2 separate regions of the Homo sapiens genome follow, and region 1 is linked to region 2. Evidence: fine-mapped expression QTL. A gene starts in region 2. The other region holds a variant in brackets. All regions are shown on one strand. Distances are from middle to middle.

The links. PIP is the estimated chance that this variant, and not a neighbour inherited with it, causes the effect. A credible set is the group of variants that fine-mapping cannot tell apart.
Region 1: its variant is the best candidate, but not a certain one, in a credible set for the expression of SMAD5 in tibial artery (GTEx, PIP 0.76).

The regions. Positions count from the first base shown.
Region 1 is chr5:136,091,825-136,097,204 of GRCh38, forward strand. No RefSeq gene overlaps it. Among named protein-coding and RNA genes, the nearest start is that of SMAD5, 38 kb to the right of the region's middle. The variant G/A (reference allele first, on the strand shown) is at 3,155.
Region 2 is chr5:136,129,701-136,135,080 of GRCh38, forward strand. SMAD5 (SMAD family member 5) reads left to right here and starts at 3,145. Exons shown (of 8, transcript NM_005903.7): 1 at 3,145-3,262. SMAD5-AS1 (SMAD5 antisense RNA 1) reads right to left here and starts at 5,190. Exons shown (of 2, transcript NR_026763.1): 1 at 3,650-5,190; 2 at 1-81. RefSeq lists enhancers at 2,409-2,468, 2,499-2,548 and a silencer at 2,859-3,498.

The DNA of each region.
Region 1 (5,380 bases), 38 kb before region 2:
ACTGTATCGCCCAGGCTGGAGTGCAGTGGCACGATCTCAGCTCACTGCAACCTCTGCCTCCTGGGTTCAAGCGATTCTCGTGCCTCAGCCTCCTGAGTAGCTGGGATTACAAGCACCTGCCATCGTGCCTGGCTAATTTTTGTATTTTTAGTAGAGATGGGGTTTCACCGTGTTGGCCAGGCTGGTCTCAAACTCGTGATCTCAAGTGATCCCACCCGCCTCAGCCTCCCAAAGTGCTGGGATTACAGGCTTGAGCCACTGTGCCCGGCCTGTTCTATTATTTTTATAAGTAAAAAAAAGAAATAAATTACCCATAATTCTACCATTTATTGTTAATATTTTTCTCTACATCCTATCAGTTATACACACACACACACACACACACACACAGACATACACATATTTTATTGGTTTGTTCCTTTTGTTTTTTTCTGAGATGGAGTCTACCTCTGGTGCCCAGGCTGGAGTGCAGTGGTGCAATCTCAGCTCACTACAACCTCCACCTCCCAGGTTCAAGCAATCCTCCTGCCTCAGCCTCCCAAGTAGCTTGGATTACAGGTTGCCTGGGCTAATTTTTGTATTTTTAGTAGAGACAGGGTTTCACCATGTTGGCCAGGCTGGTCTCAAACTCGTGATCTCAAGTGATCCACCCGCCTCAGCCTCCCAAAGTGCTGGGATTACAGGCTTGAGCCACCGCGCCCGGCCTGTTCTATTATTTTTATAAGTAAAAAAGAAGAAATAAATTACCCATAATTCTACCATTTCTTGTTAATATTTTTCTGTACATCCTATCAGTTATACACACGCACATACACACACACACATACACACAGACATATACATATTTTCTTGGTTTATTCCTTTTTTTTTTTTCTTTTTTGAGATGGAGTCTCACTCTGGTGCCCAGGCTGGAGTGCAGTGGCACAATCTTGGCTCACTACAACCTCCACCTCCCAAGTTCAAGCAATTTTCCTGCCTCACACTCCTGAGTAGCTGGGATTACAGGCGTGCACAACCATGCCTGGGCTAATTTTTGTATTTTTAGTAGAGACAGGGTTTCACCATGTTGGCCAGGCTGGTCTCAAATAGTTCCTTTTTTTAAAGTAGTCATTTGGTAGGAGAATTTAATTCCAATAGTATTAATATTTAATTTTTCCAAAGAAGCTTAAACCTATATTCCTGTAATCAGTAATGTCCTAAATGAAACTTTTGTTGGCACTCCTCTATGTAAACATCATTCAAAAGCTTTCACTCCCTCCTATCTTTCTTAATACTTAATGACTATTACCACTATCCCCAGTCACATTATCATCATTGGTTTGAGATTTAATCATACACCTTACAGTGTTCATGTTCCCAAATGTTTTTTAACTCCTCGTCTTACTTTAATTTGCATGCTTCATTTTGTAATTTAAATTTAACCCACCTAGAGTACTTAGTACTTTTTACCTAGAAAACACTAGTGTACTTTCTAAGTCCTGGTACAGCGAGAAACATGGTTTTTACATAAGAATGATAACTTGGCTGGACATACAATTCTTGGAATATAGTTCTCTTTTCTGGATGTCTGGTATCATTGTTTCACTGTCTTCTAATTTTCACTGTTGTTGATGAGAAGTTTCGTACCAATCTGATTCATTTTCCTTCATAAGTAAACTTTCTCTTCACCTGGAAAAGTGTTGAACTTTCTCTTTAATCTCAGATTTAAGAAATTTCACCAGGAGATGACGAGTTTGGGGCTTTTTGTGCAGTTTGGAATTTGATTTGCAGCCATTTAGTTCTTAAAATGTAAATTTTTCTACATTTAAAGTTATCTTGCATTGTTTCTTTAATATTTTTCTTCTTCTGTGCCTTTTGCCTTAAGGATCTCCTGTTATTTATTTATCAGACCTCCCAGACCTACTTATTATGAATCTTATCTTGTACTCATTATTTGCATTTATTTGTGTATTTGCTTTTGGTTGTTGTGGATATTTTTTGCCTTTTGTAAGTGTGTGGGTGAGAGATGTTTCCTTTATTTGATTTTCCAGAACACAAATTCCATTTTAATCAGTAATTGTTCATTTCCTGTTCCTTGGTTAATTAAACAAAATTGCAGTTTTTACATCATAACTTCCTTAAAATATTCCATTTTAGAGACCTCTTGTTGTTCTTCCATTAGAACTGCCTCCATAGGTGTAATCAGTGCCTGTTGGGGACATGGCTTCCCTCCTTAAAATAGCCTGTGAACTTTTTTTCTCCAAAACATTGAGAGTTTCCTCTCCTGTTAAATTATCTCCTGCTATTTAGTATCGTTGAGGAAAAGTCTAATACAGGCCTGATTTTTGTTCTTTTTTGGGGATCCAGTTTTTTTCTCCAGTGCCTAGTAAGCACTCAGAAAGCAGTGCCTACGATTGGGTGGCTCATGGGGCAGCTTCTCTCTTTATTAGAAAAAGAGATATCTTACAAGTGGTTGCCTCCACTGAGATCAGTTGGAAACTCCCCATTATCTCATTTATGTCCCCATTTTCTCCCTGCAGCCCAAACAATCAGCCTTTGGACTTTATCTAGGCTGTCACAGATGGAGAGTCCCCCTGATGTCCGGAATCATTGCCCAACAGTCTGGTGTCTAATGTTCTAATGAAATGTCATATTTCATCATTTGTTTGCATGGATATGTCTGTGAGAAAATGGTTTTGGGGGAGGAGAAATGATTCAGTATAATAGTTAAACTGCTTAATTGCAAACAATATAAACTCTGTTATTTTATTTGATAGTTATTGGGAAGCTCCAAGAAGGGCTGGACAAATTAGAGAAGCAGGCTTAGAAAATGGGTAGGAACTAATGGAGGTGGGATGGTAGGGAACTCCACTATGAAAACAGTCTGATTATGACATGTTGCCTGTTCTGCTGTTCCCAGACACTCACCGTGCTGCTGCTGGACTTTGAACTTGGCTACTGCCACCATAAATAGTCACTGACTGTACCTGAATCTTTGTGCCACTGCCTGGCCTCATATGCAGCAGGCAGAGTATAATTATTCCCCATTTGGGCTTTCTCAGTGGCAAGGGGGCTCAGTCTCTCTCAAAGACATGCAGAATAAAGAAGTCTCCCCCAAAGAAGGGGGTTTTATATTCTGGGCAGCTAAAAATTGGCATGTGTTATCTAGGCAAAC[G/A]TCAGTAGACTTCTGATTTCTATCACTAAGTAGCAGCCTTCGATTCTGCTGGAGATTGTGATACATCCCAAAAGATGACGAGGCAGAGGTTGTCGCTGCCCTGCTCATCCTCTCTGCACTCACCCCTACCAGCAGAGGTGATTCTTTCCAACACCTGCAGCTCTCTGCCAGCTGCAGAAGCACACTTGACCTCTCCCCGGGACAAGCAGGAAGAGCCAGATACCTGATGCCCCTTGATTCAGTTCTCATCCAACAATTCGATATGGCCATGATGAATGAATACCATAGCTTCCGTGTCCCACAGCTGGGGTAACTCTGGGGTGTGTACTACATTGTTTCCCAGCAAGATTAGTCCCAGCTGTCCACAGTGAGAAGTGGCATGATAAGACACCCTTTCTTACCTGTCTCACTTCTGCACACCCCTACTTGTAGGCCTGCAGATCTCCTGCCAACTAAGCTACTGGCACTTGAATACTTGCCTTAGGGTCTGCTCTTAGATTTGCTCAAACTAACACAGTTGGTGAAGCCCTGTTGAGTAGTCAAGAGTACTTGGAATAAAAGGACAAGGCAGAAGAGTTCCTGATCTTATTCTCACTTCCCACTTAAAGTTTTTGAAGAAGTGGATTATCCTGAAATTCTACCCTGCGTAAGCCCTTTGACCCAGTCTTTTCCCTCGTAGTTGTTTATCCTACAAAAGGACTTACACTCATGTGCAAAAGTAACACAAAATGATGTTCTTTGTGGCTTTGGTCGTGACAGAAAATAAATTGGATGCACCTAAATGCCCATCAATGAAGTTAAATAAATTACAGTGCACCCCTACAAGGTAATACAAAGCAGCGATTAACAATGATGCTACCGATTTCTAGTAACTAATAGGGAATGAGGCCCAAAATATATTGTTAAGAGAGAAAACCATATCGCAAAGGAGCATTATAGTTTTATTTCGCCAACAGATATTTCAATACATATTTCCTGAGTGTCTACTATGTGCCAGGCTTTCACTGTCCTGTTTGTAAAAATTTCATCTATTCTATTGCCTGAACTGTGTTTTGGCAAACACAGTTTGGAAAATTGTGTCTCTTCCAAAAGTATTCAAAGAAAAGGAGAGTAAGCTTGATGGTAACTTTTGAAAACTGCTTACAGTTAACAGTGTGAATATCTTATAGAAGCATTTTTCTCCATTTTTTCATAAATGACCTAATTTGAAGATAAACATTGAATATGTGTATGTATGTGTGTGTGTGTCTGTGTGTGTGTGTGTGTGTAGTTGGGGGGCAGTGGTAGAGAGATAGATTTTCTGACTGTAATAAAACTTAAATCACCTTGTGCCTTCCGCACTATTTGAATTTTACCCTGAGGATGAATCACTTTCATAATACAAAAAACATACTAGTTCAGGCCAGGTGCAGTGGCTAACCCCTGTAATCCCAGCACTTTGGGAGGGAGGCCAAGGCGGGTGGATCACTCGAGGTCAGGAGTTTGAGACCAGCCTGGCCATCATTGCGAAACCCTGTCTCTACCAAAAGCACAAAAATTAGCCGCGCATGCTGGTGCGTGTCTGTAATCTCAGCTGCTCAGGAGGCTGCAGCAGGAGAATGGCTTGAACCCAGGAGGCCAAGGCTGCAGTGAGCTGAGATCGCGCCACTGCACTCCAGCCTGGGTGGCAGAGTGAGACTGTCTCAAAAACAAAAACAAACTAGTTCATTAAAAAAGCTTCACAAACACACACACACACACACACAGTTTTTCTCTATAACAGAATTCTGTCTTCAGTGACTTGCTACTCTCTGGAAGCTTTGCCCTTTCTTGTGCACTGCCAGATGCCTCAAGGTATCCTTTGAACTGTCTGCCCCACCAGGAAGCCATATTCAACCACCTGATCTGTTGGTTTTCTTTTTCCAGGACCCTAACAATTCTCTCTTCCAAAGACATTCCAAGAAGATGAGGAAGAATATAGAGGAGTGTTTTAGAATCGTCTGAGTTCCTAGCTTGAATACCTTAATAACAGCTTTAAGAAATGTTTTTCTTCATAAAAGCCTTGAGTTGAAGAAAAACATGCGCTGAAATAATTTCCTAAGCCCCACCCTGTGCATGACTGGCGTAAGGAATCGCTCATTGTAAAGCTATTGGTTATTCTAACTCCTTCCGCAAATTAATTTACCTCAGGAAGCCATGTTCCTCCATAAATGGCGGGAAACAATGGGGTCTTTTATATTCCCAGTA
Region 2 (5,380 bases):
CCTACCATCATCACATTCTTCCAATTCTCCCAGTAGGGTATGCAGTAGTCATGTAGGCAGAGCCTTCTGAGCTACAGCAAACTACAAAATTAAGATATTTATTAATGATTTTCAAACCAAAAACAATTTGCCTCAATTACTAGACATTTTAAAATTAAAAAATACAGAAATGTTTCTAAATTATTCCAGTTCTTCATCTTCCATATATTGTCTCACCTTTCCTGAAAGTTGCCTCCTTCTTAGACCTGAAAAACTCAAGGAGGGAGTAGGTCATGGGCTAAACATTTAGGCTAATTCTCTACATGAAATTGATAATATAAATGATTATTGAAAAAATTCAAAGGAAAGGATCATTTCTTCTGTAAACATCAACCCAACCCAAGAAAAACTATTTGGGATTTAAATCAGGGTTTCTCAACCACAGCACAACTGATATTTTGGGTTGACTAATTTTTGGTAGAAGGAGGCTGTTCTGTGCATTGTAGCATGTTCAGCAGTGTCTCTGACCTGCAACGCCTAGATGCTAGTAGCACCGCCCTCCTAGTTGTGACAACCGAGAACATCTTTAAACATTGCCAAATGTTTCCTGGGGGTGCAGTCACCCCTGGTTGAGAATTATAGGACTAAATTGTCCAGAAATAGGTTTCTCTACAAGTAAAGTAAAATTGAGTATTGGAGTTGCTTTTATCTGGTCTTCTTGATCAGGTGAATGGCTAAATGAAAAAAGCAGTTTGTCTATTTTGATGCCCCACTGACTATGTCTATCTGTTCAGATCATCCTGTTCTACATTTGTTCTTAGATCCCATTTGATTGCCAAAAACAGGGACTTCCTTACTTCATTCTTATGGTTCTGGGATTCCTGTTCATTTGCTGTTTTATAATGTTTTTGACTGTATAGATATTTAGTGATCCCTCTGATTTTCCATAGTCTTTGAGGTCTAGGTAATTTCTTAGACCTTCGGAAGGCTGCTGGTGTGGTACTAAAATCTCCATTCCTCTCTTCTATGTTATCTCTTCCAACTTTAGACCTAAACTGAGCTCAAATAGCAAGTTGGAGAGGCTGGAGTTGCTGGCTGATTTGATCAGTATGTGGACACATAACTTAGGAAGCAAAACTGTTGGCTATGAGATTACATATGTGATTATGAAAAGGAATCTTGTAATCACAAATTCTTCTGACGTATGTACAGTGACTGCAAAACAGCAAATAATTTGTTTTGGGAAGGATTTTATTGGCTGTTTGAAGTGAGGAGTATCTCTACTATACAAAATATTTAAACCAAATTGTTATGTCCTATAATGTTCAACAAAGCACTCTGCAAACATCAGTTCTGGAAAAAAAAAAAACGTATCCTCCAAGGCAGGATTATATGCACTTCTGGGAGTTGTAAACCCATGCAGGCTCCAGAAATATTTGCCTTCCAAGGGCTGGAAACTTCTGAATTAACAACAAATAATCAGTGAGTGTGACAAAGAGTTAAAGTACACAGACTTTACTTTCTCAAAGTTTATGATGTAGTAAAGAAGTTTAAGATGGAGACCTGAAATTGCAAACTGGTGGCCAGTAGGCTAAATCGGGACCATGGATTTGTTTTGTTTGGCTTGCATGTAGTTGGCCTCCAGAATGTCTAACAGAGTGAGAGGAAGGGAGCGGGGTGGGGGGCGGGCAGGAGACAGGCAAAGAGAGAGAAAAATAGAAAGAAGTTGCTAAACAGATATAATTGAGATTTTCACATAAAAATCTAAATTTCCAGCTTTGCTTGAAAAATCAGAATATCTGCCAACACTGGGTCCTTATTCCCACATTTCCCTATGGTAACAGTTGGCTGGAATGAAATAGCAGTGACCCCTTTGGTCTCTGGAACTAGACACTCACTCTCTGGTCTCTTCCCCCACTTCCCCTTCACTCCTTTACTAGCCCTCTGTCACCATTTCAGATGGCCACCCCTAATGCAGAGACTTCTGGACATTTATTTAGTTTCTTCTCCACAGAAATAAACTTCTAGAGCCTGGAGCAAAATAGTGGCTGCGCCATTTGTGTGTCAGATGAGATGACCCTGGCTCGGGCCATGGAGGTGGCAATTGAGGTGTGAGAAATGGTCAGATTTAGGATAAATTTTGAAGAAAGAGTCAGTAGAATTTCTGATGGATTGGATTAGGGTGTCAAAGAGCATTCCAAAATGACCCCGATTTTGATTTTTACTTATTTTAAAAAGAAAACCTATAATAGAACATTGGAGAGCCAGTATTGACCTTTTCAAATAAAAACAAAATTATTCAAAAGCTTTTTCTTACTAGTACTATTCAAATCGGGTACCCTATGTGGTACCAATATTATATTCTAGGAAATACTGACGGTTTTGGAAATTTGGAGGAAAAAGCATCGAGAAGAGCTCCAATTACTTAGAAAAGAGAGTCCAGGAGATGGGGTGGTGTATATAAGCCTATGGATGGTGTCTCTGCAACTCAGTGGCCCCGCCTGTCCAGGGGCTGGGTCCCCACGGGATCTCCCTCCCCACAAGGAGGTGGAGAGGCTATGTGTCTTGAACAACTGGGGTTGCGATCCAGTGTATGGGCAGTCCCACTCCTGGAACTCCAGGGTGGGCACTCGCTCCATTTCCACAGGCCCTCAAGGGTTCCAGGATTGCCCCGTGGGAGGGGTTTTAGTGCTGCATCTAGTAAGAAGCTGTAAGATGCTCAGAAACATGTTTTGAAGCTACTTTGCACAGAAAGAAGACTCTTCATTCAGATTTGTATTACAGATCAATAAAAGTAGCTAAGTCGTATCTGAAGATGTTTTTGTTTACACTTTGTATGTGACAGAAAACCTCCAGTTGTCTGTGTCAAGGACAATTACTTAATTTTATTACAATGTATACTGATTTGGTTAGTGGAAGCTTCTAGCGCCTACTGTGGTGGTGGTGGGAGCTATCTGATTCCCATTCCCAGGCCTGGCCATCGACGCGAAGGCCTCCAGCTGATCGGAAGTCGGCGTTGGCCGGCGCGGAGCCCGGCGCGGAGGCTTCTTTCAGCCGCCCGGGCAAGACACCCCTCCCTCGGTCCCGCAGCGGTCACTCCGCCTCTGGCGCGCATGCGCCGACCCCAGCGGGCGTCCTCCCGGGCTCCCTCTCCCTCCCTCCCTCATCCGGGTCCTGGGCGAGCGGGCGCCGTGCGCGTGTCCCGCGGCCGAGCTGCTAATAAAGTTGCAGCGAGGAGAAGCGCAGCGACGGCGTCGGGAGAGCGCGCCTAGCCGGCTCGCGAGTGAGTGAGGGTCCCCGGCGCGCGCGGGCGAGGGGAACTGGGGGCTGCAGGCTCTGCCCCGGCGGACTCGGGCCGAGGCGGGGGCGTTCGGCCGCGGACGGAGCGGAAACGACCCAGGGCCTGTCGGGCGGGAGGTAGGCCGAGTCCTGGCCTGCCGGGGTCCCGGCTGGCGGACACGGTGCGGCCCAGCGGCTGCGGAGGCCTCGCTGGCTGCCCGGGGCGTCCTGAGGCGGGGCCGGGGCTGGCCCTCGTCCCAGCCCCGCTGTTACCGCCCAGACTTTGGAGGGAGGCGTCTGGGACGCCCTGGAGGGGACCCCCTGACCCCGCGCTGTCCTGGGGAGCGGTTTGCTTTCCTAACTCATCGGATGTACCACCCTGGATACACACCCTTGATAGGACTGCGGTGCTCGGCCGGGCAGCCTGGGCTGCTGCACTGCGAAGCTGTCCAATGGCTTGATGAATCCGTGCCGCCGTCGCTTTGTGTTTCAAAGATAAGGATCCGCGCTTATCGGTGGGAATTACACTCTGGGCAGTTGTGACCGGCTACTGCAATCAGCTGGTAGTTAGACCTGGTTTCTGCCACTTGCCATGTCAGTTTTCACCACTGCAAGGATTTCTTCTACTTCATGTAAACTTCTCTGTGCTGCAAAGAGAATGCCAAAGCAGCGTCTTTTTGCCTTCACCATATTCAGCCGCTGGCCGGGTCCTATACTTCAATATCAGGGCTCAAATTAATATTCCAGTCTCTTCCCCTCCCCTTTTCCCCTCTCCTCCTTTCAGCTGCTGTTACTACGTGGAGTTTGGAGCCTAAGCTTTGAAAACTCCCATGTGGCGCGCCCGTCTTAAGTCTGAGCATGCTCAGTAGCCAAAACAGATTTTTGGTTGCAGAACTCGGGCGAGGATACTTGGGGTATTTGGACGTTTGCCGGCTTCCCAACAGAATGTTCCGGTTCTGGTGGTGATGGCATTGGAGAATGGGGCTTAGGCAAGCCTGTAGGTGAGGAATGGCTGAACACCCTGAGCCAGATGTTTATCTTGATTGTAAAGACAATGTTTCCTGACCAGCTGGAGCTTTGGGGGGGGGGGGGGGGTGTTGCGGGGGGAGGGAGCAATTTTGGTTGCTTGTGCATTTAAATGGGTGTGGCGCTAAGTATATCTTGTTTACCTTATCTTTCTGTGGAAAAGTTTTGATGTCTAGGTTTGTCACATCATGCCTGTTGCCTAGCACTACCAAAAGGGTTGTTATCTAGCAGCAAAGATTGAATAGGTGGAGGTCGTGGCTTGGCCTCACAGAAGTTGAGAGGAAAGGGTACTTGGGTTGCGTTTTTGAAAATTCGTATTTAAAACTAGAGTACTTGAATTTCCTTAGAGTACCTGAATTGCCCAGAGTGAATTAGTTTTTAATTTTAATTTGAAAGACAAAAGATTGAAAACCTTAGTCCCAGTAGGTTTAGTAACATTCCAAATAGCTTACAATTTCTGCTAGATGCCAATGCAGTAGTATCCATTGTGGGGAAAACAGTACCTACATTCAGTGTGACAGTTTCACATTTATGGATCCAAATATCATTATGAAATTAGTGTTCCAAATTTAAGGAGCTATTTGCAGATGTATAACAAATTATTTTAGTCTTTTATTCCTTTGGTAACTATTAATATTTTTTTCTCTACAGTGAAAATTGTAAAAATGCAAAACTTAGACAATTTAACAAAACTTAACCTTCATAAAGGTTGTAGATACTATGTTTAGATTTATAAAGTTTAATTTTGATGATTATTTGTGTGATTGTTCCTATACAGCTTCCTTTCCTTCCCTTTCCACATTGTTGCTCCCTCAGTCTTTTTTACATTACTGCTGTTAATTTACCCATGTATCTTTGTTAAAAATACCTTATTCATCATTTTGTGCTTCCATTCCTTTCAGATCATAGCTGAAATAAGCAAGAAAAGTTAGATTAACCTTCTCAACTGACTTTACTCTCAGGTTTTAAAGGCATCCACATGATATGGTCTAGTTAAAAGGAGGAAGAGAGCAGCAAACTGGAAAAAAAGAATAAAATATTTTCGTAGGTTCTGTACAGATCTGGTAGTATTATCTGCGTGTCTGGTTCACTGTGG